Regions from separate parts of the Homo sapiens genome. Here region 1 is linked to region 2. The links come from fine-mapping of genetic effects on gene expression. A gene starts in region 2. The other region holds a variant in brackets. All regions are shown on one strand. Distances are between the middles of the regions. Region 1 has its middle 50 kb from the start of LINC02348. Region 2 holds the start of GCAWKR (gastric cancer associated WDR5 and KAT2A binding lncRNA).

Region 1 (5,379 bases), 710 kb before region 2:
TGACTTTTTTTCCTCCTCTGCATTTTCTGGCCAAGTCAAGAGCTCTGAAATCTTTGCCTCCGGAGGCACTGTGCTGTGGTGGAGAGACCAGTGTAGGGTTCAGTGATAGGGCTTCTCGTTCTTTACTTTTTTTCATTTCTTACTTTATTTTCTGTAACTTTCATTTTAGGTTCGGCGGTACGGGTGAAGGTTTGTTACACAGGTAAACTCGTGTCACAGGAATTTGTTGTACGGAGTATTTCATTGCCTAGATATTAAGCTTAGCGTAGGGCTTCTAATAGTTCTAATCCTGTTATGGACTCTGTGTGCATTTGAGCAACACCCCAGGCCTCTGTGTCTTCAGGACTGAAGTGAGAATATTGGAACCAGTGACCCAATAAGGGTGAACATTTTTATTTAAAATATTTTAATTTTAAATCTCTTATTAGATGAAATTCCAGCTATTCAGTGTTCCCCACAAGTCAGTTAACTTGTTATATTCATGCATTTCCAAGCTATAAAATGAAATTTATTATGTCTTGATGTCTCAATGTAGAGGGTACAGTCATAGCTGCCTGCAAATGGAGACGTCTGTTATTCGGATAAAGACATTTTTTATCCATTTTAAAGTTTTTTTATCCAGTTTGGATGATTACTTGGCTATTGTATTACAACTACATTGCTTGCAAGTGACAGACACCCAAGTCGAATTATCAACAAGATGAATTTATTATTGGCAGGTGTATAAATTAGGATTCTTAGGCGCAGACTACAGAATCCACTCCAGTTTATTTAAGAGAAAGGAATTTATTACAGCCTGTCATGTGGTTTGTTAATTTCTGGGCAGGTCAAAGACCCAAGCTTAGACCTTAGAGCCAGGAGAAATACATGCCTAGATCACAGGACTCTTCTGAAAACTCCACTGCCACTGCTGCTGCCCATAGCTTAGGTTTGGGATGATAGACCCTCTACCCCAGCTACTCAGAACAGCCAAGCACCTGGGCCATTCTACTTGCTGAAAGTCTGATCTCCCTGAGTGTTGCCACCACCCTGGGGTGCTCATTTCCAACTCCCAAGTCTGCAGGTGTCTCTGCCTGGTGGGACCCAGGTCACATGTGAAACCTTCTCTGCAAGGGAGTCTGGGAAATGCAGACTGAGGCTTCCCATCCTCTAGATTCCCGGGAAGACACTGGGTAGGTTGTGAGGGTACCAGTCTGTGGGGCATGACATAGCAGCATCCTGGAGGACCCCTCAGAATCTGTGGGCAGTGTGGGGCTGGGCCTTAGGGGCAGAGCTGGGCACTGGGCACTGTGGGGAGGTGAGGACGTCATCTCTACCTCCTTGTTTCCTCTGCCTCTCTCTGCCTGGCTGCTGCCTTGGAGTAACACAGCTTCCGGGAGCACTAGAGTTTTACATGTTAGAATCCAGGTCCCACAGGGGTCTAAGTCCCAGTTCCAACCTCCTTGGGAGAGTGATGGGTTGGAACTGGGACTTATCAAATAGCCATCCGTATGATAACCATTGGAAACAGAAGAAACCAACGTTCCAAACAGGAGAGTAGCAGAGGGTAGAAGTGAGGTGTGGAGACCGGGCGTGGTGGCTCATGCCTGTAATCCCAGCACTTTGGGAGGTCGAGGCAGGAGAATCGCTTGAACCAGGGAGTTGGAGGTTGCAGTGAACTGAGATCACACCACAGCACTCCAGCCTGGTGACAGAGTGAAACTCTGTCTCAAAAAAAAAAAAAAAAAAAAAAAAAAAAGTGGGGTGTGGAGTCTCTGGGCAAACCAAATAATACCAAGAAGCCAAGAATTCTTTTGAAGCAACTTTACCCCTCAGCTGCTATTGGCTGAGTCTAGGTCTGTCTCCTTCCTGCATGGCAGCATGATTTTCTTAGAATGTTACACAATCCCTGTCCTTCTGGGCTGTGGTCATCAGGAGTAAAGGGTGGTGACAGTGAATTGTCAGGGCTGGGCAAGCTTGGCCTGGGTGAGTATCCAGCCAAGTGGCCCTGGGCAAGCCCCTCACTCCTGTCTTCCCTATTTGTAAAATGGGCTTGCAATGGTGCTTCTAGAGATCATGGAACCTATACATAAGATACAGGGATCCTTCTCCACAGCATCCTACAGGAGCAAAGGCACCAGCGTGCTCCTTCAGATCCTCCAGAACCTTGTCTGGACACTGGTGTCCTCTAGAGAAACCTCCTTTCCAGCCGTCCCATACCCTCAGCACCTACGGTCAGACAGAACTGATCCTGGCCTCCAGATGGCCTTTTTGTAGCCACTGGTAGTGCTCCCCTTGGCCACTCAGCATTCCACTGGGACACCAAGCCTCTTTTTTTGTTCCAGGCCTAATAATTATAGAATCTTTCTATGCAAGTTTTATAACCCTGAGTTTTTAATAAAATATCCCAGATTATCTATATACAACAACCCATTGGAAAAACAGCAATGATTGACTCTAATCCCGCAACCAGTTTATATCTCAAAAGGAAAGGCTGGCTGGGCGCGGTGGCTCACGTCTGTAATCCCAGCACTTTGGGAGGCCGAGGCGGGTGGATCACCTGAGGTCAGGAGTTTGAGATCAGCCTGGCCAACGCGGTGAAACCCTATCTCTGCTAAAAATACAAAAATTAGCTGGGCGTGGTGGTGTGCACCTGTAATCCCAGCTACTCAGGAGGCTGAGGCAGGAGAATCTCTTGAGCCCGGGAGGCGGAGGTTGCAGTGAGCCGAGATCGTGCCATTGCACTCCAGCCTTGGCAACAAGAGCGAAATTCCGTCTCAAGAAAAAAAAAAAAAAAAAGAGGAAAGGCTAAGAAAATAACACTTAGAGATTCCAAGTGACCTTGCGTCTCCAGATTCAACCCCAGTACTTGAAAGCTTGAAATTCACAGAAC[G/A]TAAAATTAACCATTTTAATGTGAACAATTAGTAGCATTTGGTAACTGCACGATATGGTGCAGCCGTCGCCTCTATCTAAGCCCAGATTTTCATCACCCAAAAGGAAACTCTGTACCTGGTAAGCTGTGGCTTCCCATTCCCCTTTCCCTCCATCCTGGGCAAAGACTAAGTTGTTGTCTCTATGGATTTACCTATTTTGAGCATGTCCTATAAGTGGAATACTGCAGTATGTAACCATTTATGCCTGGCTTCTCTCACTTGGCATCATGTTTCCACAGTCCCTGCATACTGGAGCATGTACAAGTGCTTCACTCCTTTTTAAGGCTGAGTAATATTCCACTGTATGGATAAATCACATTTGCTTAACCATTCATGATAGACATTTGGGTTGACTCCACATGTTGGCTGTTGGAATTAGTGCTGCTATGAGCATGGGGTACATGTGTGAGTATCTGTTTTCAATTCTTTGGAGTACATTCCTAGCAGTGGAATTGCTGTGACATATGGGAACTCTATATTTAACTTTTTGAGGAACCGCCATACTATTTTCCACAGTGGCTGAGCCATTTCACATTTCTGCCAGCGATGTACGAGGGTTCCAATTTCTCCACAACCTTGTCAACACTTACTTTTCGTTTTTAAAATTATAGCCATCCTGGTGGATGTGAAGTGGTATCTCATTGTGGTTTTTATTTGCTTTTCCAAGACTTTTTTTTTTTAAAAAACTGAAAGAGTTGGCAATTTTATGTTCACATTTCACAATACAGATGAAAACTGTACTTTTTTGGTCTCACTTCTCCCCTCCAAAACTATTCTCTGGTAGGAAGGGGGAGCAGGTCTTCCTTATGCTGCTAAGGAAACACCCAGCGTCACAGCACCATGGTCTCCTGGAGAAGAACAAATAGCAAAAAGCTGATATGACGAGGTCTCTCCACTATTCTAATCTGTCTGGCTTAGTTATTCTGGGCTGCGTGGGCTCCACCATGCGATGGGTGGGCGGGCTCATCCTGGGGGCCTGGGTAACACTGGCATGTGACATCCCATGGGTGGCCTCATTCCAGGAGCAGGTCCCATGGCATCACCCTCAGGAGGAGGTGGGCCTGTCACTGGCACCATAGGAGGACCCCCCATAGAGGGTGCTGGCATCACACCAGGGTGGCGAGGAGGACCTGGGCGCTGGTGGAAGTGGGATCCCTGCCCCTGCAGGAGGAGGAGTGGAGAATGGAGCAGGAGGTGTCCTTCCTTGTTGAAATGCAGCCGTTGTCCTGTGCATCAGGCTCGGAGCCTGCTCTTCCATCCCTTTCCGGCGCAGGTCTTTCCTGTCCTCTTTGTGTTTCCCACCGCCGCCCTGTGTCTTTCTCGCAGATGGAGACTCATGGGTGAGGTCTGCACCACGGTGATACCGTCACAGTCAGACTCGGGCTTGTTGCTCCGTGGGCCATTGGCCCGGAAACCACGTGCCTCCAAGAACGTTTTGAAGTGAGAGATGACGCTTTGTTCTTGATTTCTTGAGGTGAATTCTGGCAAATAGGAGATGGGCTGAAGCCTGTAGCAGAGTAGATGTTGTCCGAATTTGCCAGCAAAAAAGAAAGACCTGTGGACTCTAGAAGCTGTAGCTTCCAATCCCCAGTCACATTCGAGGAGATGGTGTCCACAGAGGAAGAGCGTGGAAAATGATTTCCCTACTGGACTCATGGCCACATCACCGCAATAGTGCATTTTTACTTCTGCATGGTGTTTTACCAAGTTACACATCTTTGTGAACAGGACAGGGGCCTGTTATGTGTTATGGATTGGCGGGTTCCCTGTGGTGTACACAATCTTACCCCAAGACAAGCCCTGGTCTGGAGGGCTCTGTGTGTGGCTTGCCGGTATCAGGGACTTCTGGGGCCAAGACTGGGAAGAGTTGGGGTGCAGCACCCAGCGGCCAGTGCTCAGGGAAGTTCTGGGAGGCCTGGGCTTCCCAGAGACAACCTGATTGCCTATGAAGGTGAGGCTGAGTTGGGACTGGGTTCTGGGCTGCATTCAAACCCAGATGATACATGTCCAAAACGGGGCCCTCTGGGTGGACGGCAGCACAGGGGTAAGGAACCTCGCTGATTTAGCTGAGCTCTGGCTTCCGTGGGTGGAGGAAGTGAGGCCCTCTCAGGAGCTAACCTAAGAGATGAGGCCATTCTTGCACGGCCACCGCTGAGGTGCGATCGCACAGTGCAAGTCCTCTGTGCTGTGAGCCGCCCGCACTCTCAGGACATGAGCGCTGGCCCCTGCATGGAGCTCCAGGACGGCGGAGTCCACCCGGCAGCCCATCACAGGCGGGGGCAAAATTCAAACCTCCTCTGCCTCTTGCCTCCCCAAGATATTGCCTTTGTTGTCCGCCTGCTCCCTTGTCCCCCAGCTTACACCTGGTACCTTTCCGGCTCCCACCTCCGTTACTGGTTGCTTCTCCCTATTCCTCTGCTACGGAGCCTCTGCAGCCTGAACATGTGGTAATGATTCCTTCCTCTTT
Region 2 (5,379 bases):
AATTTTTGTACTTTTAGTAGAGGCAGGGTTTCGCCATGTTGGCCAGGCTGGTCTGGAACTTCTGACCTTTGGTGATCTGCCCGCCTTGGCCTCCCAAAGTGCTGGGATTACAGGTGTGAGCCACCGTGCCCTGACTGTTTTCCTAGGTTTTAATATATATTGCCTTTCTGCCACTACAGACGTGTAGAACCGGGCCTCCGCAGGTGCCAAATGCTGCCTGTCCCAAGTCTCAGAATCTGCCTGTTCTTTACTTTCATCTGTAATATGGGTTGGACACTCAAATTATTTATATGTATTATGCATGATTGTTTTATATTTTTGACTCATTAAAATCACTCAACAATTAAAAAATAATTACAAGTATTAAAATATTTAGATACTTTGTTTCAGTTGTTTCAACTTTGTCAAAATCATGAAAATCACTAAAAGATAAACTTTCTCCTGTCTAACTGAACTTTTGTACCCTCTGACCAACATCACCCCAACCCCCCACACTCTAGCCCCTGGTAACCTCCATTCTACTCTGTTTCTGTGAGTTCAATGTTTTAAGATTCCACCTGTGGGTGAGATCATGCAGTATTTGTCTTTCTGTGCCTGGGATAAATAAACTGTTAGTTTATAACACTTATTTTAAAGAGTTTTTTTTTTGTTTGTTTTGTTTTGTTTTTTTGCGACGGAGTCTCGCTCGGTCACCAGGCTGGAATGCAGTGGTGTGATCTCAGCTCACTGCAACCTCCGTCTTCCGGGTTCAAGTGATTCTCCTGCCTCAGCCTCCGGAGTAGCTGGGATTACAGGTATCTGCCACCATGCCCGGCTAATTGTTTCGTATTTTTATTAGAGATGGGGTTTCGCCATGTTGGCCAGGCTGGTCTCAAACTCCTGACCTCAGTGATCCACCTGCCTCGGCCTTCCAAAGTGCTGGGATTACAGGTGTGAGCCACTGCACCCGGCCTAAATAGTTTTTAACTATTCAATATAGAGCTGGAGGCCATTGTCCTCAGCAAACTAACACAGGAACAGAAAACCAAATACCACATGTTCTCACTTATAAGTGGGAGCTGACCGATGAGAACTTACGGGCACAAAAGGGAACAATACACACTGGGGTCTATTGGAGGGTGAAGGTGGGATGAGGGAGAGGATCAGGAAAAACAACTATTGGGTACTAGGCTTAATATCTGGGTGACGAACTAATGTGTATAACAAACTCCCATGACACAAGTTTACCTGTGTAACAAACCTGCACATGGACCGCTGAACTTAAAGTTAAACCAAAAACATTTAAAAAGTAAAGAGAAAAAGAAAATAAGATAAAATCAATATGCCCACTTTCCTCATCTTTAAAATGAGAGTTGAGCTCTAGAAGGTCTCCGGTTCCTTCAGTCTCTAAAATTTTATGTTCTAAGTTAAGTTTTTATTTGTTAGTTCCCTTTTAGCCGGCACATTCCCAAATAAGTATAGCCAGATCAGCTTTTTTTCCCCCCGAATGACATTATGAAAGATTTTAAACATATAGGAAAGGTGAAAAGACAATACAACAAATACGTGTGTACTCAGCACATAGATTCAGCAATTGATAACATCTACCATATTTGCTTTGTCCCTATGTGTATGCCTGTCCTTGTCAAATCATTTTAAATTAAGTTCCAGACATCCTGGCCCTTTACTCCCCGAGATCTCAGCATGCGATTCCTAGAAATAAGGACATTTTTCTGCATGACACGACACAGTCATCACACCTGAGAAAACAGACAATACTGGACTCAGTCACCTAACTGTAGTGTCTGTGGTACTGTAATATCACCTAAGAAGACGCACAATGTCTCTTTCATTTCTTTTCATTGAAAACAGCACCTCCCACTCCCCACCCCTTGCACTTTCCCAGATAACACTGGCTTTTGAAAAGAGGTGCGACCAGGCGCAGTGGCTCACGCTTGTAATCCCAGCACTGTAGGAGGCCGAGGCGGGCGGATCACGAGGTCAGGAGATCGACACCATCCTGGCTAACTTGGTGAAACCCCGTCTCTACTAAAAATACAAAAAATTAGCCGGGCGCGGTGGCGGGCACCTGTAGTCCCAGCTACTCGGGAGGCTGAGGCAGGAGAATGGCGTGAACCCGGGAGGCGGAGCTTGCAGTGAGCCGAGATCGCGCCACCGCACTCCAGCCTGGGCGACAGAGCGAGACTCCACCTAAAAAAAAAAAAAAAGAGAGAGAGATGCGACATAATACCTTGTCGAATGTTCCATTTCCTCACGGCGTTGCTTAATGGTACTTTGAAAGTTCAGTCTAAGGCTGGCTTGGGTTCAGGTTCAATGTCATTGGCTCCCTCCTGAGTGGGGCTGTGCGTCCCCTCGCTGTTTGGAGGGGACGTTCGGAGCAGCCCGAGAGGCCACCATGCCCCCCGCCCCCCGCTCCCGGGTCCCCGGGAAGAGGCAGCCCGACGGCCCGGCTGCAGACCTCGGCTCTCCCGCAGGCTGCGGGTGGGTTACCTGGCTCCGGGAGACCAGGTTTCCTCGTCTGGGGAGCGCAGCAGTCTCATAGCTGCCGTGAGAGGGTTCGCGACAGAATCACCGCGAAGGGCGGGAGGACCCGGATCGTCGGGAGAGGTGGGCTGCGTGCAGCCACTGCGCGGGGACCCGGATGCACGCACAGGGCGTGGCAGGGGGCGGGGCAGGGCCGTTCGGTGGCCTGTGTGGAGCGATGCCACCTGCTGGTTCTGTACGTCCAGGGGGGCAGCGTGTGCACAGCTCTGGGACCCCGAGGTCCTCGGGGGGACACACTGCTCTCTCCAGCGCACACAGACTCCACACACACACGCCCGCATCACAACGGCAAACACGCGCCACCCCCCAGTTACCCGGAGACACATGCGGGTAAATATGACCCCAGGAACTTGCTGAATACGAGTAACTGTGTTTCATTCCTCCTACCCGTCCGCTGTGGGTTTACTAGAGTTTGTCTTAGATGGCAAATAAGAAAGCTTTTTATTTTAAATGACAGTCAGGGCAAGAATCAGGTTGCTAATTTCCCTGAGACGCATGAGGGTGTAATGACACATCCAGGCTGGAAACCAAGAGTCATTTTCCTTGAAAGACTTAACTTGAAAGTCGGTCTGTACTAGCGAGTTCCAAGGCCCTGATGAAAAACAGAAAGCGGCAGGGAAAGGAGGAAGGAGGAGAGTGAGAGCTAAGTGGATGGCGTTCGGGACACGGCTCTCGTTGGAAGGCACAGACTCTCTGCAGCTCTGTGCGAAACGCTCCTTGCTGGTTGGAGTCCTGGCACCACCGGAATCACTGTGCTCAGATGTCCTTTCAGGGGCAGTGGGTGGCAGCGGCGGCCTTACTCAGGGGCTTCTGCCTGAGAAGGAAAAAGGTTGAGCCGCCTCCCCATCGATTTGTCCACCCCGTTTTCTTTTTTTCTTTTTCTTTTTTTCTTGAGACCGAGTCTCGCTCTGTCCCCCAGGCTGGAGCGCAGTGGTGCGATCTCGGCTCACTGCAAGCTCCGCCTCCCGGGTTCACGCCCTTCTCCTGCCTCAGCCTCCCGAGCAGCTGGGACTACAGGCGCCCGCCGCCACGCCCGGCTAATTTTTTGTATTTTTAGTGGAGACGGGGTTTCACCGTGTTAGCCAGGATGGTCTCGATCTCCTGACCTCGTGATCCGCCCGCCTCGGCCTCCCAAAGTGCTGGGAGTACAGGCGTGAGCCACCGCGCCCGGCCCACCACGTTTTCTTAATGACCTGATTTGGGACTGCAGACAAATGAGTCTGTGATTTTTCATGTGTTTGCGTAAAGGCTGAGTTTGAAGAGATTCCTTCATTTTTCCCCCTCCTTAGGTCTTTTTTTTTTCTTTTTTTTTTTTTGATATGGAGCTTCGTTCTTGTTGCCCAGGCTGGAGTGCAGTGGCTCGATCTCGGCTCACCGTAACCTCCACCTCCTGGGTTCAAGCCATTCTCCTGCCTCTGCCTCCTGAGTAGCTGGAATTACAGGCATGGGTCACCATGCCTGGCTAATTTTGTATTTTTAGTAGAGACAGGGTTTCTCCATGTTGGTCAGGCTGGTCTCGAACTCCCGACCTCAGGTGATCTGCCTGCCTCGGCCTCCCAAAGTACTGGGATTACAAGTGTGAGCCACCACGGCCAGCCTCCCCCTCCTTAGGTCTTTACGAGCACTAAAATTCTATAACTAGAATCCCATCTGAATTCAGTTTTCTATTTCTTCTGATGTTTTATTGTTTGCCACAGTAACTGTAAGGAAATACATAACATTTTGAATAGTTAATCATCAGGCAAATTAGTGTTGTTTGGAAGATTTGCCCACTTGGGCTGGCAAGGTTGCAGTAAAACTGGCACTGGTGGCCCTGCAAATCGGGTCTATCACTTTGGGAGAGTAATAACTTAGTGATATGTATAAAAATATTCCATACTATTTCACTAATATGGCCCCTTGGGAACTAATCCCAAGATAACTGAAGAAAGATACAGTATGTGTGAAAGTGTTCGTTACAGTGGATCATACAACGGAAAAGCTGGAAAGCACGTGTGTGTCAATAGGTGAACTGTATAGTATGACATCCAGCAATTAGTAATTATGTAAATGCTAGAAATGAGGGAGTTATCCACCAAACCACATTTTTGAAAGGTTAAACAACAAAATTATATCTACATTGTAATTATAATTATGTACGTATATGTCAGGTAGTATATGAAAATAGGGTGGAGTAGTGAAATTATGGGTACAATTGTTTTTATTTGTTGTTCTTTACACTTTTTTGCTTTAAAATATTTAAAAAATTACCAGCTTTGTGTCAGGGTTGGTTCAGGATTCTGTGCTGTTTAAGGCATGCATGAGAAGAGTTATTCTTTTTTAAGATACCCAGCAACAAGGTACATAAAAACAAAAACAAGCGAAGTAAGTCAGACTGTGTCACTGACTATAAACAAGTCAACCTGTTTTTCCAATACATGATTCACTGGAAGTGAACACGTCAAAGTGGCACATAGGGCAGCTTTGGGTCAGCTGGAGCTGAGCGCCAACCCAGCACGGACCTTCCTCAGCTGTGTGGCTATTTGACACGAGCTTCAGTTTCCTCATCTGTGCAATGAGAAGATAGCATTCACCTGTGTAGGGCAGAGGTGGGATTGGAGATCCTGGGCCTGGTGAGTGTGGACTCTTAAGAAGAATAGCCTTTCTCTGAGAGGGATTGAAGATGTTTATTTTTCCCCCTTTATTATCTTTTGGAAAACATATTGATATGTGCACCAGACGGTATGAAACATGGGTTGCTATGAAGCTTCCTATCGGTGTCCCCTCATGAAGCAGGACCAGCAGTGACTTGACCTGTCCCTGTCCTGCTCGCCCCCAGGGACCAGCTCTCTCTTC

Evidence for each region. PIP is the estimated chance that this variant, and not a neighbour inherited with it, causes the effect.
Region 1: its variant is fine-mapped to the expression of GCAWKR in transverse colon (GTEx, PIP above 0.99). The same link has a PIP of 0.9 or more in sigmoid colon.

What each region holds. Positions count from the first base shown.
Region 1 is chr15:101,561,414-101,566,792 of GRCh38, reverse strand. It overlaps the pseudogene SNRPCP18. Among named protein-coding and RNA genes, the nearest start is that of LINC02348, 50 kb to the left of the region's middle. The variant G/A (reference allele first, on the strand shown) is at 2,873.
Region 2 is chr15:100,847,022-100,852,400 of GRCh38, reverse strand. It overlaps GCAWKR (gastric cancer associated WDR5 and KAT2A binding lncRNA), which reads right to left and starts at 2,649. Exons shown (of 4, transcript NR_160703.1): 1 at 2,491-2,649. RefSeq lists an enhancer at 2,523-2,817.